2 linked regions of the Homo sapiens genome follow. Changing the gene in region 1 together with any one later gene gives a genetic interaction. Each region holds a gene or a part of one and is shown on either strand. Other genes may lie near its edges. The genes, in order: UCK2 and MAP4K1.

Region 1 (3,813 bases):
GTGCACGCCACTGTGCCCAGCTGAATTATTCTTAAGGAACAAGATGACACCTCAGAGCTCCATTTCATCCTTTTGAAGAGAGGGGCAGGATTAGGCAAAAGGAGAACACAGAGATGATAGTGAAAGAGATACAGAGGTGAGTGTTAAGTAAGCGAAAGAGCATTTATTCAGGGCAGAGTAGAGTCTCTTTGTGGGACTCCTCCTTCCCTCCCTGCCTTCTTCCCTACCAGGTAAAAATTCAAACCTACACAACAATAGAGAGGATGATATAACCAAACCCTATGTACATGTCAGCCAGATTCAACAGTTATCCGGATTTTTTAGGGCCCATTTGTAATATGGCCCAGGAGGAAGAAAATGCCTGAACAATCTAGATTAACCTAGAGGCAGGTGTTTCTTTGCTTATTTGTGCAATTTTATTTATCTCCTTCCTGATAAAGGGCTTCTTCTGCCTTGGGACTTCTTACTATCTAAGGTTGAGGTAAAGAGCCAGGACTCTATGAAACCACATTACTTAACTTGGTTTCCTCATCCATGTAGGAGAGCACATGTGGCTTCTAAAGGTGGTCATAATGGAGTGTTTGGCACAGGGACTGCTGCCTAATAAGTAATCATTTACACTGTTAGCAGTGGTAGTGTGTTTGTGGAAGGGAAGGGTCACCAGCCAGGTCCTTGAAAACACAGGACTGAAACATGCAGCGGGGGATCAACACAATTAGTCATACTGTATCATTGATCAAGGGTTGGGATGAGCGCTGATTTTCTAGAATTGCACCTACTGTATGTTCATTATCCCATTTTACTGGCCATTGTACAGGTTCTGTCCTAGATTGTGCTGGGTTAAGGGAAACAGTAGTTTATCTGCAAAATTAGGTAGTGTAACTTTTTAATATGCTTTTTTGATGGTGATGGGATTGCTATTTACATTAAAAACATTTTATGGGTTTTAAATATAAATAAAAATATCACAATTTGAATAACTAGATAATATACATTTGGCTTCGTGAATCACTTTTTTGTTTTTGTTCTTTGGAATTCTAGGAGGAATTCTATCTACTAATAAAGGCTGCAGACTTTATCTTCCTACAACCTTAGGACGTAAGAAACGTCCTAAGATAGATGCCTGGGAGGAAAAGGAAATTGAGGGCCTACAGGTGTTTAAAAACCTATAGTTTATAATTGCTTAGAGCCTTTGATTTCCCCCCCCACCCATCCATCTGTAGCACCCAGAGAGCCTTGGTTTTGTAACATTTTCACTTTTGAATCTAGTTTATCATATGAAAGTTTTACTGTTCTGTGATATTTTGGGGCATGGGAGGATCTGTGGTCCCAAAGTCCAGAGTAGTTTTAAATGTTTTTCTGTGTTAATATGCAAAAGTATCATGAAGGCGAAATAAATTGTTTGCAAATAATTGAGTCAAAATATTATTGTTCCTCCAAAGATCCTTACTTAGTCGTGTGTCACAGCTTGTATAACAGGACGTATTTTGCAGAGCTGTTTAGTTTGCACTGACTTGTGCAACAGGAATGGCCAGTTTTCCTTACGCTCAGGGCAATCAAACACAACTTTATAAGAATTGTAACTTTAAAAGATTTCATATTTTTGTTGTTGTTGTTGTTAAAATCGTTGATGAAATAAATTCAATAGTAAAACTTCTAAGATTTGAGTCATCAAACCTCTAAATATGCTGTTTTTCTGTTCTGTTCTGTTCTGTTCTTTTCTCTTTTTTCTTTTTTTTTGATGCAGTCTCACTCTGTTGCCCAGGTTGGAGTACATGGCACGATCTCAGCTGACTGCAACCTTTGTGTCTTGGGTTCAGGCGATTTTCCTGGCTCAGCCTCCCGAGTAGCTGGGACTACAGGCATGTGCCACCATGCCTGGCTAATTTTTGTATTTTTAGTAGAGGCAGGGTTTCACCATGTTGGCCAGGCTAGTCTCAAACTGACTTCAGGTGATCCACCCACCTTGGCCTCTTAAACTGTGGGATTATAGGTGTGAGCTACCCTGCCTGGCCTAAATATGCTGTTTTTCCTTTCTATTTATTCGGTTGACCAGTTTCTTTCTTCTTCTTTTTTTTTTTTTTTTTTTTTTTTGAGATGGGGTCTCACTGTGTTGCCCAGGCTGGTCTCGAATTCCTGACCTCAAGCAATCCACCCCCTTCAGCCTCCCAAAGTTATGGGATTACAGGCATGGGCCACCGTGCCCGGCAGGTCAATCAGTTTCATTAGAAGACTTGGGTTATGTCTCCTACAGCTTGTGTAATACAGACATTTTTATTTTTACATTAGTCTTTGTATGAAATGAAAAAAGAAATCAGTTATTTGATAAATACAATCCTTCACTATCTCATTCTATTGAATGCACTTGTTTCATAATGTTCCTTTTACGAAGAGTATATTGAAGGGAAAAAGGGGCAGACACATGTATTACTATCTGTTTTTCTTTTTTTTAAATTTTAGGATACATGTATTACTAACAACAACACACAAAGCATGTAGGTTTGAGTTCATTTGGAGTTGGCTTCTCCACTCTTGTTTGGGATACTCCTAAGTTGTTTTAGATGTTGGTGGTGTTTGTGTTCCTTGTCACCCTGTCTGTGGTGACACACGTTTGTGAAAAGGCCACCTGGTTTACTGTAGATGTGAAGTCATGGCTGTGGACTGGAGCAAAAGTAACCAACAGAAGTAGGATTAACGCTGTGAGCATAGCCTTCTTGCTAACTAGCTGAGCTCTCTGGCCATGGTTTTTGGTTCCGTTGATATAAAGAGATGTGCAGGGGCTGAGTGGCATTCCATGGATGTGCAGTCACCTTGTGATTCCAAGGCCCTGTAGCCCCTCAGCACATCATCACCATGCCTTCATTCTACTTTCTGCTGCCTTTTTTGTCTGTCTATACCAGGGCACAAGCAGACAGGATCAGGTAGCCCTACCTTTATCAGTGGCTCTGGGAAAGGCTCTTCTGGAGGAGGAGGTGGTGTGTGCTGCCCTCCTTCCCCCACCATCACTGCAAGTACCTGACAGTAGTAAGCTGTGTTAAGGGAAGGGAGGAAGGAACTTTGGGGATCCTAAGACTTCTCTGTCACAGGCGTGTAAGGCGGACTCTTCTCCGTTAGCCTTTTTTTTTTTTTTTTTTTAATTTAACTTTTAAGTTCAGGGGTTTGTTACATAGGTAAACTTGTGTCACAGAGGTTTGTTATACAGATTATTTCATCACCCAGGTATTAAGCCTAGTACCCATTAGTTATTTTTCCTTATCCTCTGCTTCCTCCCACCCGCCACCTCCAGCAGGCCCCAGTGTGTGTTGTTCCCCTCCCTGTGTCCATGCATTCTCATCATTTAGCTCCCACTTACAAGTGGGAACATGCAGTATTTGGTTTTCTGTTCCTGTGTTAGTTTGCTAAGGATAGTGTCCTCTAGCTCCATCCATGTTCCCACATGAGACGTGATCTTATTCTTTTTATGGCTGCATCCCTTAGCCCTTTAACTCATCATGCACGATAGCTGCCTTTGGATTCTTCCTTCCAGAGCCCCTTCTTGGAAGGTGTGCATCAGCTTGGTTACTCTCGGGACTTCCTCTGTACCACACGTGCCCTTTCTCTTATTCCTGGGTGCTCTCTTCTCTCCTCACAGTCTTCCGTGTGTGCTAAGATCGTGCAGCTCCTGGGGCAGAATGAGGTGGACTATCGCCAGAAGCAGGTGGTCATCCTGAGCCAGGATAGCTTCTACCGTGTCCTTACCTCGGAGCAGAAGGCCAAAGCCCTGAAGGGCCAGTTCAACTTTGACCACCCGGGTGAGTCGGGCATTGAAGGGGG
Region 2 (3,813 bases), on another chromosome or scaffold:
GGCTTGGGAGTTTCAGACAAAGGGATGGGGCTGAGGGAAGGGATGGAGGAAAGGAAGTGGTATATGGGATCCTATAACTTCCTGCTTCCCCCTACATACACACACCCTGCAGGAAAGACCCCCCACCTGTATTCTCATAGCATCCTTGGCCTGCTGGAACGGAAAGAGACCAGAGCAGGAAACCCCATCGCTCACATTAGCCCCCACCGCCTACTGGCAAGGTACCAGCTCCCAATGAATGGCACCACACAGCCTTATAATTCCTCCCATGCCCCTCTGCCTCCTGCTGTCCTACCCCCCTTCACACCTACCTATTCTCCAGGAAGAACATGGTTTCCACCAAGATCCAGGACACCAAAGGCTGCCGGGCGTGCTGTGTGGGTGAGAGAGAGCTTCACGGGTGTGCAGAGAGTGGGCGGGGCCAGGCCAGAGGAGGGGCTTGAACTGCATCCACCTGAGAAGGTTACAGAGTTAAGGCAATGTGTCCAGAACCCAGAAGATGGGTGGTAGTGTGGGTGGCGAGGAGGATAGAGGGCATTGATCTTGACTCATCCTTGCCCATGCCACAGCGGAGGGTGCGAGCTCTGGGGGCCCGTTCCTGTGCGGTGCATTGGAGACGTCCGTTGTCCTGCTTCAGTGGTACCAGCCCATGAACAAATTCCTGCTTGTCCGGGTAAGGGGCTTGGGAGGGTGCTGGGAACTCTGAGGAGTGGGTGGCTAAGGCCTTGCACCCTTTGCGCTTCTATCAAGAGCTCCATGAAGCCCCACCTCCGTCGAGGCCCCGCCCCAATCTCCCGAGGCCCCGCCCACCTGCGGTCTGCGCTTGGAGCCTCGTCCTTCTGAAGCCATCCTGATCCTTAAGCGCCGCCCCTCACACCTGGGCCTAATTATTCCTCAGGCTCAATGCTGCCACTCCCTGGGTGTCCTAGTAGAGCCCATTTAGAGCCTGTCTCTTTGAGTGTCTAAGCAGGTTTTGCTATCTTTGGGGCCCTGCCCGTCTGCCGCCAAGGTGGCATGCCCCCACATGGAAGCCACACCCACTCGGAGGTCACGACCCCCGTTCCCGCGGAGGCACCAGGCCTTATCCCCTGACATTTCTAGACGGCATCCCCCAAGACTTAGGGCCCTGGTTCGGAAGTCCCAGGCCAGCTACAAGCCACGCCCCCTGAGGCCCCGTCCTGAACCACCCCCTAGCCCGCCCCTCCCTGTGCGGCCCGCAGCAGGTGCTGTTCCCACTGCCGACGCCTCTGTCCGTGTTCGCGCTGCTGACCGGGCCAGGCTCTGAGCTGCCCGCTGTGTGCATCGGCGTGAGCCCCGGGCGGCCGGGGAAGTCGGTGCTCTTCCACACGGTGCGCTTTGGCGCGCTCTCTTGCTGGCTGGGCGAGATGAGCACCGGTGAGTGGGGCGGAGTCTTGCTGAGGGCGGGGCTTATCAGATCCGGAGGGGCGGAGCTGGAGGCGGGGCTTCGCTTAGCCTGAGGCACTACGGGACTGAGAAAGGGCTGGAAGGGCGGAGAAGGGAGAATGGCAGGTTTTAGTTAACTGGGGAGATTGATGATGGGGTGGGACCGGGATGGTGGGCGGGGTTTAGCCCACTTGCTTGTGAACTGAGGCGGTGGCTAAAGCACAGGTACTGGCCTTCTGGGGGTGGTGTGGGGAAAGGGGAATGGGGTGGGGTCAATCCTTAACCCACTCCCCCCAAACAGAGCACAGGGGACCCGTGCAGGTGACCCAGGTAGAGGAAGATATGGTGATGGTGTTGATGGATGGTGAGAACCCTCCTTCCTCCCCTTCCTCCCCACCCCTCCAGCTGCAGTCCCTAGATCTCTGCCTCCGAACTTGTGCTTCTCAGAACCCCCTGAGCCCCTCTGGGCCTTGCCCCTGTCCTACATAGCTTTCACACTGAATTTATGGATTGGTCCCTTAGTAACCCTCTAAGCCTTGCTCACAGTTCTTAAAACCGTCTATCTCCTTCCAGGCTCTGTGAAGCTGGTGACCCCGGAGGGGTCCCCAGTCCGGGGACTTCGCACACCTGAGATCCCCATGACCGAAGCGGTGGAGGCCGTGGGTCTGTGCAGGGACGGGAGAGCCCAGGATCAGGGGTGGAAACTCAAGTGATCCCCAAGGGTAACGGGCATTGCTTTCTCCCCAGCTATGGTTGGAGGTCAGCTTCAGGCCTTCTGGAAGCATGGAGTGCAGGTGTGGGCTCTAGGCTCGGATCAGGTAAGCCCCTCCATCCAAACTCCACATCACTGCCCCCCAGCCTCCATCATGACATTCATCAGATGGGCTCCGAGAACTCCTGAGTCAGAGTGTGAAGTCCTGGAGGGGAAACATCTTCCAAATTTCAGTTCAGATAGATCCCCTTCTTTGCCCCAGGATTTATTTTTTATTTTATTTTTATTTATTTATTTATTTAAGACGGAGTTTCACTCTTGTTGCCCAGGCTGGAGTGCAGTGGTGCGATCCCGGCTCACTGCAACCTCCACCTCCCGGGTTCACGCGATTCTCCTGCCTCGGCCTCCCAAGTAGCTGGGATTACAGGCATGCGCCACCACAGCTGGCTAATTTTTGTATTTTCAGTAGAGACGGGGTTTCACCATGTTCATCAGGCTGGATGGTCTTGAACTCTTGACCTGGGGTGATTCACCCGCCTTGGCCTCCCAAAGTGCTGGGATTACAGCTGTCAGCCACCACACCCGGCCTATTTTATAGATAGATAGATAGATAGATAGATAGATAGATAGATAAAATTTATTTATTTTTGGAGATGGATTCTTGCTCTGTCACCCAGGCTGGAGTGTAGTGGCGCGATCTCGGCTCACTGCAGCCTCTGCCTCCCAGGTTCAAAGAATTCTCCTGCCTCAGCCTCCTGAGTAGCTGAGACTACAGGTGCATGCCGCCATGCTTAGCTAATTTTTTTGTATTTTTAGTAGAGACAGGGTTTCACCATGTTGCCCAGGCTAGTCTCAAACTCCTGAGCTCAGCCAATCTGCCTTCCTTGGCCTCACAAAGTGCTAGGATTACAGGTGTGAGCCACCACTCCTGGCCATTTTTATATATTTTTTGAGACAGAGTCTCGCTCTGTCACCCAGGGCAGAGTGCAGTGGCATGATCCGAGCTCACTGCAACCTCTGCCTCCTGGGTCCAAGTGATTCTCCTGCCTCAGCCTCCCGAGTAGCTGGGATTACAGGTACACTCCATCATGCCCAGGTAATTTTTGTATTTTTAGTAGAGACGGGGTTTTGTCATGTTGGCCAGACTGGTCTCGAACTCCTGACCTCAAGTGATCTGCCCGCCTCAGCCTCCGAAAGTGCTGGGAGTACAGGCGTGAGCTACTTCACCCGGCCTGTTTGTTTTGGAGATAGGGTCTCTCTCTCTTGTCCAGGCTGAAGTGCAGTGGTGCAACCATAGCTAGCTGTAGCCTTGACTTTCTGGGCTCAAGCAATCCTCCCTCCTCAGCCTCTCAAGTGGCTTGGATTACAGGTGTGAGCCACTGCACCTGGCTGCTCTTGGATTTCTTGAGTCCCAATCTCATCCTGGGCCACTACTGTGACCTTGGGCTGGCAACGTTGCTTCTCTTTAAGCTTCTGTTCCCCAACTGTAAAATGGGGACCACTATAGAGATATATGGATAGTTAAGACAAGACTGTCTGGGTTGGAATTCAGCTGAGTGGCCTTGGGCAAATGACTTAACCTTCCTGTGCCTCACTGTCCTCATTTGGAAAATGGTGTTTATCTCACAGAATACTGTGTCAGACTTTGCCCTTACACTTTAGTATTTTTATTTATTTATTTTTGCTCACTCAGTTCC

The links.
Region 2: changes in UCK2 (region 1) and MAP4K1 together harm fitness less than expected from each alone (positive genetic interaction), as found in Homo sapiens cells (one large-scale study listed by BioGRID).

The regions. Positions count from the first base shown.
Region 1 is NC_000001.11:165,886,573-165,890,385, forward strand, and holds part of UCK2 (uridine-cytidine kinase 2), read left to right. Parts: intron 1-3,631; coding exon 3,632-3,791; intron 3,792-3,813. UniProt on the Homo sapiens protein: Phosphorylates uridine and cytidine to uridine monophosphate and cytidine monophosphate. Does not phosphorylate deoxyribonucleosides or purine ribonucleosides. Can use ATP or GTP as a phosphate donor.
Region 2 is NC_000019.10:38,593,894-38,597,706, reverse strand, and holds part of MAP4K1 (mitogen-activated protein kinase kinase kinase kinase 1), read left to right. Parts: intron 1-112; coding exon 113-221; intron 222-311; exon of another isoform or gene 312-322; coding exon 323-381; exon of another isoform or gene 382-454; intron 455-569; coding exon 570-673; intron 674-1,220; coding exon 1,221-1,395; intron 1,396-1,705; coding exon 1,706-1,768; intron 1,769-1,977; coding exon 1,978-2,067; intron 2,068-2,151; coding exon 2,152-2,222; intron 2,223-3,813. UniProt on the Homo sapiens protein: Serine/threonine-protein kinase, which plays a role in the response to environmental stress. Appears to act upstream of the JUN N-terminal pathway.